3 separate regions of the Homo sapiens genome follow, and all the other regions are reported to be linked to region 3. Evidence: microRNA targets listed by miRTarBase, many of them from high-throughput screens and not tested one by one. Region 3 holds a microRNA gene; each other region holds the end of a gene's coding sequence.
Evidence for each region. The annotated mature microRNA hsa-miR-4280 reads GAGUGUAGUUCUGAGCAGAGC and lies in region 3 at 2,300-2,320, shown strand. An mRNA with a match to its seed (bases 2 to 7 or 8) in the 3' UTR can be bound and repressed. Matches are read on the target gene's strand: a 7mer-m8 pairs with bases 2 to 8, a 7mer-A1 pairs with bases 2 to 7 and ends in A, and an 8mer does both.

Region 1 (3,255 bases), not on the chromosome of region 3:
TTTATATGGATGGGAATTACCTAGCATGTTCATTAAAGCTAACTGTTGTCAGTTCCCCTCTATTCTTAAAAATCAGCATTCAAAGGGTTAAGATCAAATGAGTGAGCTGCTTTTTAAATAAAATACAGGCATGAAATGGAATTGTGAAGGCCTTATCCATATCAATTTTATTTTACTTTTTCTCCTGCCTATTCTTTGGTTCTGCTTACTAAATTTCCAGTTTTATTTTTTGCTTGTTTTATCTTAAGGGAGATCTTTGATGAGCTGCTGGAAACAGAAAAGAACTCTCAGTCACTTAGCACGGAAGTGGGGAAGACTACCCGTCAGGCCTTGTGAGGAACAAACTCCTGGGTTGGCAGCATGCACTGCATATTTGTTACTGCTGCCCACCTCACCTTTCCTCTGCTGAAGGAGAATTTGGAATTCTACTTGATGCGGGAGCAACAAACAGCTCAGGGCCAAACCAAAAGACAAAAATTGGAGTAACGTAGAATGCTCCATGCTATTTTATGGAAACTTTGGTCTCACATCCGTAGCTGATTATCCTCTTTTTCTCCTATGAGTGGCACTTCTTTTGTCTTAGGAATACATGTTGTAAATATATATCTGTGTATGTGTGTATACACACACACAGACACACACACACACACACGGGATGAATGGAGCCTTAAAGAGTTAGGATGAGCCACCAGAATATGCCTGCTCAAAATTAATAGCACAGCAGTTTGGAGAAGAAATGAAGGTGTCAAAGAGTCCATTCACCTGAGAAATGTGTGAAGACATACTTATCAGTTGGCTTTTAGCTTTTATGTTCCTTGAGTAGTTTCACTCAAGTCTGTAACCTTTTGTGTTTCCTTATTAGTAAAATTCACTGGAAAGCCAGCTCTTCATGTTACACTAATGACAGTTTGTTCTCTTTGCAAGAGAGGGGCATTACTGTCACCTGACTTGAGGAGCTGTTTTGTTGTTGTTGTTGTCTGCAAATTTCATGAATTTGTGATGTCTTTGCTGTTTACATGCAGTCCCAAGAAATGGATTGTTGGTGCTTTGGAATATGTTACAGTCCCACATTTGATATTTCTTATATACTTTGTTTTCTCTAAGGAGATTTCTTCACACAGTATGTTCATCATATATCATCATCATTATTATGGTGGTAAAGATAGAATCTTTTTTCTTTTTTGTCATTCTGCCATGGAGCAGCATTACCCTAATGGATTGCAACCAAAACTTTAAACAAGTAGAAAGATAATATTTCTCCAATTGGGACTCCCCAGCAGGAATACTTAGGGATAAGGAAGAATGCTAGCATCTCTGTCTCTCAAACATAGGGAGGATAAGAAGAGTGTTCTTCTGGTAAAGCTAAAATTCTGGACCACTGAAGCTAAAAGCCCTATTGCAAGTATGAAATTAAGTACTTGAGCTGTAGGACAAACCTTGGGCATTTAACCATTTACTGTCTGGCTTTGCCCTTAAAATAGGGTTGCAATTAAAATGTGATTGGCTTAGGTAATCCCAAAAACTAACAAATAACAAAGGTGCATAATTTATTTATCTACTTTTTAGGTGCTCTGAGTTGAGGCAAAGTAGAGCGGCAACATTAAGTGCTATGCTAGTCACTTAGCTGACGTAACCAGCTTGGTTAAGCAGCTTATGAAACCATATAAAGAATTCTTTTGAGGATGGAATTCTGTCCACAAAATAATTTTGTGAGCCCAGATATCATTAGGATCACACAGAGTTAAATATAGAAAAATGAAACCATCATTATATTCTTTCGTGTTTTTTCTTTTATTATAAACAAGGGGATTATTCTTTAGTTCTCAGAGGTAGGGACAAAACCACATCAGGTTTTCAGAAGGAAAAAACATTTAAAAACCCACCATCACATGAGAGAATCACTTGAACCCAGGAGGCAGAGGTTGCAGTGAGCTGAGATCGCATCATTGCACTGCAGTCTGAGTGACAGAGTGAGACTCCATCTCATTAAAAAAAACGAAAACAAAAACAAAAAAAACACAAACCATCATCACAGAAGATGCAACATCTTTTCTGAAAGATTGCCTTAAGAGAGCTCCAGTCCTACTCTTGGAACTTGGATGTATTCTAATGTAGTAAACTATTCTAAGTTTTCATTCTTTGAATTATAAATGGCCTCAGCAGTTTTGCTCAACTACTGATAAATGCTTTGCCTCCTACCATCTACCTATATACCTTATTGTAATGAATGTTCCAAAATGGTAGAGTGGTAGAAAACGCCAGAGTAGTTTAGAGCAGAGGAAAATATTTGTTTTAAAACTAGCTTTAAAGTTTTGTTTCATTTCTACCAGGAGCCTCTTTGGTTTGGTTTGATTTTGCTTGGAAATAATTGGTTTTCTTATAAATGAGTGAAGCGGTGATAAAATTCTTTGGCTAGTTATTAATTCTTTTACGTGTCTTTGCATTTGAGAGGCACTGTTAAAAATTATTGGGAAAGATTTAAAGTGCAGGCTGCAATTAAAACATGGAGAAAAGTAGAAATAATGCCATAAGTCTAGATTGCCTCATGAAGCAGCCTCATTTGAATTGCTTTCATAGCTTTCATGTGTGTATGGTTTAGAAGTACACTTACCTCAGAAACCTGATTTGATCTTCATGTCTTGGGCAGGAGTTGTTGAAAATAGGTTATTGGAATATATAAGTTATCTCACTGCTCATGTACTTGCATGTTTGGGACTCAAATTTTACTTGATGTCTGTCCATTCTTGTGGCCCTATCAGCCTTCTCCTTCCTTTACTCCTTTAATCTACTTCTTTGACTACCAGTGGAGATTTCAGCTGGACTATGTTGATGGGGTTTGTTGTTGTTTTTGAGCTGGCTGTATATATTTTAAAATTATAAATAGATAATATATTATTTTTTGCACATTGTGATCAGTTTGCCCAGAATTGGGGATGGGGCAGTTAGCATGTTGGGGCCAGGAAGGGACAAGTTAGATAAGGACTGAGTGCTTCCGTTGCAGGCAGTTTGCACAATACCTAATTAACCTTCCTATTGAAAATACCAAATGTGTGGTTACATTACTTTAAATGACATTGAATTGGAACTTGATGGCAATTAGTTCTAGATACAACCTTTTGATCTTTGTTGGAATTTTAAGGGAAAAATGAACTAAACTTCATATTTGTTGATTTTAATCACCTAATAGTACTGAAGGTTGGAAAGTTGCATGTGGCTGGATGCTGTTAATTTCTTTAATAGCCATGACTATAATTT
Region 2 (3,213 bases), not on the chromosome of region 3:
CCACGGGGCACCTTCCAGCCACTGCTGTGCCTCAGCCACCTAGGAGCCATCCCTGAGGCCATGGCCACCAAGACAGGTGAGGGAGGCCCCAGGGCACACAGCCCCAGGATCTTGCCCCCATTTCCAACCCTGGCAGCGCTGCCAGCCATTCTTTGGTCTTCCCACTGCTCACCTGTCCTCAGAGCCAGTACTGATCTAGGGGAGCAGGTGCCACCTCCATCTCCCAGCTGTCCCCCCACCCCTGGGGCTCCCCAGCTCTACCACCCCGGAAGCTGAGCCCTGGAGACACCCTGAGGGGCGGGCGCCACCTCCTTCCCAGAAAGAGCAGAGCAGCTGGCAGACTAGAGCTCAGCTGCTCCTGACCACTGACAACCGGGAGATGTCTCGGCAGACACCACTTATCCCAGAAAAGACCAGAGGCTCCAAATGGGAACCAAGTGCATAAATACAAATAAAAACAGAGTTTACACATCGATGACAGTAGCACAAAATATACGTAATTTCTAGATACTGAGCTAATAAATCACTGTAGTTAAAAACAAAATAGATTCACTGAAACCAAGTCGATAGTTACCTTGGAGTAGTGGACTAGCTGCAGAATGTCACGGACCCACTTCCTTTAAAACAACAGAATGTTGCTATCAGTTTGTCTTACGTTAAAACAGTTCTTAAACCACCTACTATATTAAATACATTCTAATTTGGTCACTGATGATAAAGATTTTTACCTAGACGTTTTGCACTTAAAAAATGCTATTAAAAGTCTTTGGCAAAGCCACGGTCGGGGAGAAACACGTCGGTGCCGCTTCCCACTCGTGTGCCCTCACCACCCACGTGGCCCGCGGAGAGCCAGGTCGCCGTAAACCACAGATGCCTGTTCCTGCTCAACTCCTAGGGACAGTCCCAGCCCTGAGCAGAAGGGTCAGGTCATCGCGGGGATGCGTTCTCAGTCACGTTTCTGCTGCGGCCGAAACCACACTGTCGCTCCAGGGGCAGACGGGACAGGGGACCACAGCAGAGCCGGGACCTGGGGGGGGTCGCTTCCCCCGTGTGCTCCAGGCCACTGAGAGGCTGTGGCCGGGTCCTCTCCTGTGACCTCACTGGCCACATGGATGAGCTCCGATGATAACTGGCAGCGCGGGTCAGGTGACTGCCACATACACCCGGCACCCCGGACCCTGGCGCACACACGGCCCGAGCATCTCCCACACGAGCAGGACCAGGGTGGTCACGGGTGCTGGGGAGGCAACCACTCTCCCAGTTCACTGCCTGACCCCTGCCAGGACGCCCAGCGACATCTCCAAGGAGCTACAAAGCACCATTGCCTAGGACAGCTCTGAGTAATCAGAAAACAGCTTTTTTTTTTTTTTTTTGAGCCAGAGTCTCGCTCTGTCACCCGGGCTGGAGTGCGGTGGCGCGATCTCGGCTCACTGCAACCTCTGCCTCCCAGGTTCAAGCGATTCTCCTGCCTCAGCCTCCCGAGTAGCTGGGACTACAGGTGCCCGCTCTCACGCCAGGCCAATTTTTGTATTTTTACTAAGACGGGGTTGCACCATGTTGGCCAGGCTGGTCTTGAACTCCTGACCTTAGGTGATCCACCCGCCTCCCAAAGTGCTGGGATCACAGGCATGAGCCACCGCACCCAGCCAGAAGACAGCTGCTTAAAAAAGTAATTCTAAAAGCTCTGACGTCGGATCCCCTCTGCTGCGTTTTTTGTTAGTATCAAACTGTCTTTCAGAGGGTTAAGGGAGAAAACAAAACCCATGATGCTCCTTCACTTGCTCTCCGAGGCGCAGGCGCACAGAAACAGCGGCCACGGACCACAGAAATGCAGGACGGAGCTCTCCTGCTCCCACGCCACGAGGCTGGAACATCAGCCCCAGTGCCTGGTGCACACACAGGCTCAGGAAAACTAGCTCCTTCCATCAAGTTAAAAACATCTCAATCCATAATCACTCTGCTTATAAATACTATTTGCACTTAATTGGAAAATGTAAAAATCCTAGGTCTTACTACTAGATAAACACTCATTTCATAAGTACTAGTTTCAGAATATGAAATCTAATATATTTAGCATACTATGAATTGACAATAAACTGATATGAAATATTTAAGTTCACAGTACACATATAAAGCTTCATATTATCGCATATTAAAAAAAAACAGAAAGCAGCTTAGAGCAATTTATAACCTCTAACTAAATTCCTCGGTTTACAAAGTGCTTTGAAAGACCCCAGCTCCCAGTGGCCTAGTCACAGTAGTGTCAGGACCACAAACTGCTGTGATCACAGCGCCGCGTGGATCCCGGAGGCACCAGGCCCCTCAGGGACAGGCAGGCGGGTTCTGTGGGTTTGCATTTAAGGTTTTTGAGGAAAATACCTTGAAACCGTCGGTAGGACTAGATAGGTGACAACGTGTGACAGGAAAGGCTGTCAGGCCAAGCGCAGGCGGGGCTCCCAGCCTCATGATAACGTGTAACAGGAAGGGCTCCCAGCCTCGGTCCTCACGTCGGTGGCACCAGAAGCGAGTGACGACATGTCCGTGGTCAGGAGGAGCGCTGGAGCCAGGGTGCCCAGCAGGAGGTGGCTGTCCCCGCTGAGGTCACCACTGCAGGGGCTGGCCCTTGCAGTAGGGGCACTCAGGTGCGGTGGCCGCACACGGCTCACAGAGGATGTGGTGCTGACAGGGCCGCAGGACAGCACCGTGGGCCCGCTCCCGGCAGGCCACACACTGCTTGGCGCGGAGCTGGAAGATCACCTGCAGGGCCAGAACAATGACGGGCTCAGGAGGCCCCTGCCCAGGCTGGGCCAGCTGGGGAGCCGGAGGGCCTTCCGGGCAGGACTCAGCATCTCAGGCCGCCCGGCCACCAGCTACAGAGACAGGGTCAGGGAGACGCCCCAGCCAGGGCCACCTCAGGGAGAAGGCAGCTGCGGGGTCAGGGGGTATGCTCTGTCTTAAGAGCCCTGGGCAGAGGACAGCCTCCTGGGGCCACCACAGACACGGCAGTGGCCAGACAGGCCAGGCCCCTGAGGGCAGCTGGGTGCCCAGGATGTGGGCTACGCAGGACCCTCTGTCCTATAGCAGCGAGTCCAAGAGCCCACCCTTAGCAGGCGAGGTGAGGAGGGGCACGCCGAAGTGGAGGGGTCATGTGTGAGGGTCACAGCTGTGAACAGGGAGGGATGGGGCCACGGGGAGCAGTGTGGCATTCGCTGA
Region 3 (3,255 bases):
TATCCTATAAGTGGGGTCACTGTTTTTTTTTTTTTTTTTTGTCTTGAAAAGAGTCCTGACTAGGACAATAAGTGATATGTTGTTGAAAGTTGATGGCCTCTAGTTGTCTTGGGAACTTAAGCTTAGATACAGGGAGAACTATATTGGTTTTCTCACCCCAGTTAATATAGCCAGAGCTAGTTTTCCATCGCCAGTAGGGAGGAGTGTTTGGACACTTTCAGACAGTTGGGTTGGAGCTAAGATAAGGCAGAAGGAGATAATTTTTTTATGAGTCCTGGATAAATATTGGTGGATGTTTTGTTTAGGGTAAAAGCTAAGTTGCTGAAACAATGGGAACCTTTTAGTACAATGACTTAAATAAGATTAATATTTATGTATCTCTTTTGCTACAGACACAGTAATAGACGAGTTCTTCTCCTTAATGTCAGTTGCATCAGTTGTCCTTGTCTACATGGTCACTAGTACCATGATCATGTTCCAACCCATAGGAATGGGGTAAGGGGAATAGAGAGTGTCACCAAAGATTGAAGTCCAAAGATTTGTCACACACTACTTACAGTCATATATCAAGGGCTGAAACTCGCCATACCTAGCTGCATGGAATGTACTTTCTTAGATTTGTGGCCACACATGCTGCTAAACAACTTTTGGTGTTCGATTATTAAAATAAAGAGTTTCAGGGGACCATTAAGAGAATATCTGTAGCAAGCAGGAGCAGAACTAGAGCAGAGCTCCACAAAGCTTAACACAGTTTGTTTTCTCCTATTCCTCTAGCATTGACTGACTTTTGGGTTTTATCCATTTATTTGTTTACAATTTTAATTTACTTACTTGTTTTATTTGTAATGTGTGTTATTTGTGGTTGAACACTTTGTATTTATAATTCACTAAAAGGTAATCAAAATTTAAAATTAAATGTTTTACTTTTGTATGACCATTAATAGTTTTATTGGGTTTTAGAGCAGTGCCATAAAATTTCTAAAAAAAAAAAAAATAACAGGCGAGTTACTGCTGATCTCGCTCTCTGAATGCACTAGCAAAGAAAGTGTGTTTCACTCTGATAAGCCTCTGTGGACCAAAAATTTCTATTTCAAAGGAGAACGAAATGCCAACTAGTGGCTGCAGGTGGGGGATAAGTGTGGAATATGTGAAACAAATGTTTACAGTTTTTTTAATTATTCAAAAACAGTTGTGTGATAACTCTGCAGGGGGTCATGCTAGGACAGGCATCTATGAAGCACAATAAAGGCAACTAGACAAATCAAAGCATAGGAAGGACTGAGCTGAAAATAATGGAGATATTCATTCCTTTATAAATAATGTGTCCAATAATACCTTAATACTGCATAAAAGCTAGGCATGGTGGTGTGTGCCTGTAGTCCCAGCTACTGTGGAGGCTGAGGTAGGAGGATCACCTGAGCCAGGAAGTCAAGGCTGCAGTGAGCCATGATCACACCACTGCACTGCAGCCTGGAGGACAGAGTGAGACCCTGTCTCAAAAAACAAACAAACCAACTAACTAACTACTTAAAAAATAACCTGACTTTAAAACAGCAAAAATCCCTTGCTTTTCTACATTCGTTTTTTCTAGATTAGGTTTGTGAATAAGGAGCAGAAGAATAAAAATATCTCTGCCTCCAGGGGGTTACTGCCCCATTGTGGATATAAGAAGGCCATGGGATGTTCAGTGGCCTCTACTAGGATATGGCTTACATTAAATAGGACTCAGATAAGAAAGGTTCCTTGGGAGAGGTCAAAAGCGAAGATTCTGGGGGGAGATGGGAAAGAGTGAGGCTGCCGAAGTAAAGGAATGGGAGAATTACTTTAGATACACAGTGTCATTTATCCTTTACACAAATCTGAAAGTTGACTTCTTGGAATTTCTCTGGATCCCCATTCTGTTGCTGCTCAAATATTCAGTACTTTCCTGCCTTCTTGGCCTTGTCTAAGTTGTTGGTTCTGAACTGTTGCTTTGACCTTAGCATTTAGCATCAGTATTTTAAAAGTATTTCTTTTGTAGAAGGCTTCATTAGTTCCAGGCTTAACTTTGGCATTACCTGCAACTGAGCTATCACTGGGCCTGGCCCACTCACACGCCTGACCTTTATTTTCTGCCCAGCTTCACCTTAGATTTTCTAAGGCTGTCTTTCAATCTCTTTTTATTAACTGTTGTGTTCCACGTTTATTTAGCAGCACAAATGGTTATACACTCATTTCCATTGTGCAGAACAGACCTGAAAATGACACAGGAAGTCAAAATAGAAAGATCATTAGGAACTTAAGGTAAGGAATCAGGGTGGAGTGTAGTTCTGAGCAGAGCCTTAAAGGATGAGGTATGTTCAAGACTGAATGACACCTTTGTGATGCTATGGAGTGAAAGCAGTGGAACATGCTGGTGACCGACGGAAACAGTGCTGGGTGAGGAGGAAGGGTTTGGCAGAATGTGCCGAGTTGCCCTAGGTCTGAACCCTGGTTCTTGTCTCCGGATACCTGTGTGAATTTCCTCATTCCAATTTTGGATACCTCCCAGGATGACAGCTTTTCAGCTTCCTTGTTGACAGATTTTCAGGGTCTGTCTTTAGAATGATTAGCAGCTTTTAATATGTAGCCCCAAGTCTATTCTTCCATAGCCTGCACCCATCTTTTGCTCATAAAATATTTGGTATTGACTCTGTATTCCTTTGAGTTTCATTTTTGTTCAGTCTTAAGTAGGAATTACTTGGGTTCAAAGGGTGGGGAAGAAGACCTTCTTTCAGTAGAGAAGTCAAAGACAATCCAATACAGTATTCCCTCCTTATCCAAGAAGGGATATGTTCCAAGACCCCCAGTAAATGTCTAAAACTGAGGATAGTATCAAACCCTCTATATACTATGATTTTTTCCTATACACACATACCCCATGATAAAGTTTAATTTATAATTAGTCAGAGTAAGAGATTAACAATAACTAGTAATATAATAGAACAATTATAACAATATGCCAGCATCACTACTCTTGTGGGTTGGGGCCACTATTAAGTAAAATAAGGGTTACTTGAACACAGGCACTGCAATAGTGTGATAGTTGATTTGATAACAAAGATGGCTACTAAGTGACTAAGGGGCAAGTAGTATATACAGCATGGATACACTGGAGAAAGGATGATTCACATCCCGGGTGAGACAGAGTGGGATGGCACAGGATTTAATCATGCTACTCAGAATGGCACACAATTTAAAACTTGGGAATCATTTATTTCTGGAATTTTCCGTTTA

Region 1: miRTarBase lists USP37 as a target of hsa-miR-4280. Seed matches in the 3' UTR shown: 7mer-A1 at 894-900.
Region 2: the mRNA of UNKL is a reported target of hsa-miR-4280. The part of its 3' UTR that is shown has no 7-base or 8-base seed match.

The regions. Positions count from the first base shown.
Region 1 is chr2:218,452,011-218,455,265 of GRCh38, reverse strand. USP37 (ubiquitin specific peptidase 37) reads left to right here. Exons shown (of 26, transcript NM_020935.3): 26 at 249-3,255. The coding sequence ends at 336. It overlaps VIL1 (villin 1), which reads right to left. Exons shown (of 20, transcript NM_007127.3): 20 at 1,971-3,255. Among named protein-coding and RNA genes, the nearest start is that of VIL1, 35 kb to the right of the region's middle.
Region 2 is chr16:1,363,639-1,366,851 of GRCh38, forward strand. It overlaps UNKL (unk like zinc finger), which reads right to left. Exons shown (of 15, transcript NM_001372107.1): 15 at 1-2,757. The coding sequence ends at 2,602. It overlaps GNPTG (N-acetylglucosamine-1-phosphate transferase subunit gamma), which reads left to right. Exons shown (of 11, transcript NM_032520.5): 11 at 1-475. Among named protein-coding and RNA genes, the nearest start is that of GNPTG, 13 kb to the left of the region's middle.
Region 3 is chr5:87,113,989-87,117,243 of GRCh38, reverse strand. It overlaps MIR4280 (microRNA 4280), which reads left to right and starts at 2,290; the gene lies at 2,290-2,365. All of the region lies in intron 1 of MIR4280HG (MIR4280 host gene), which reads left to right.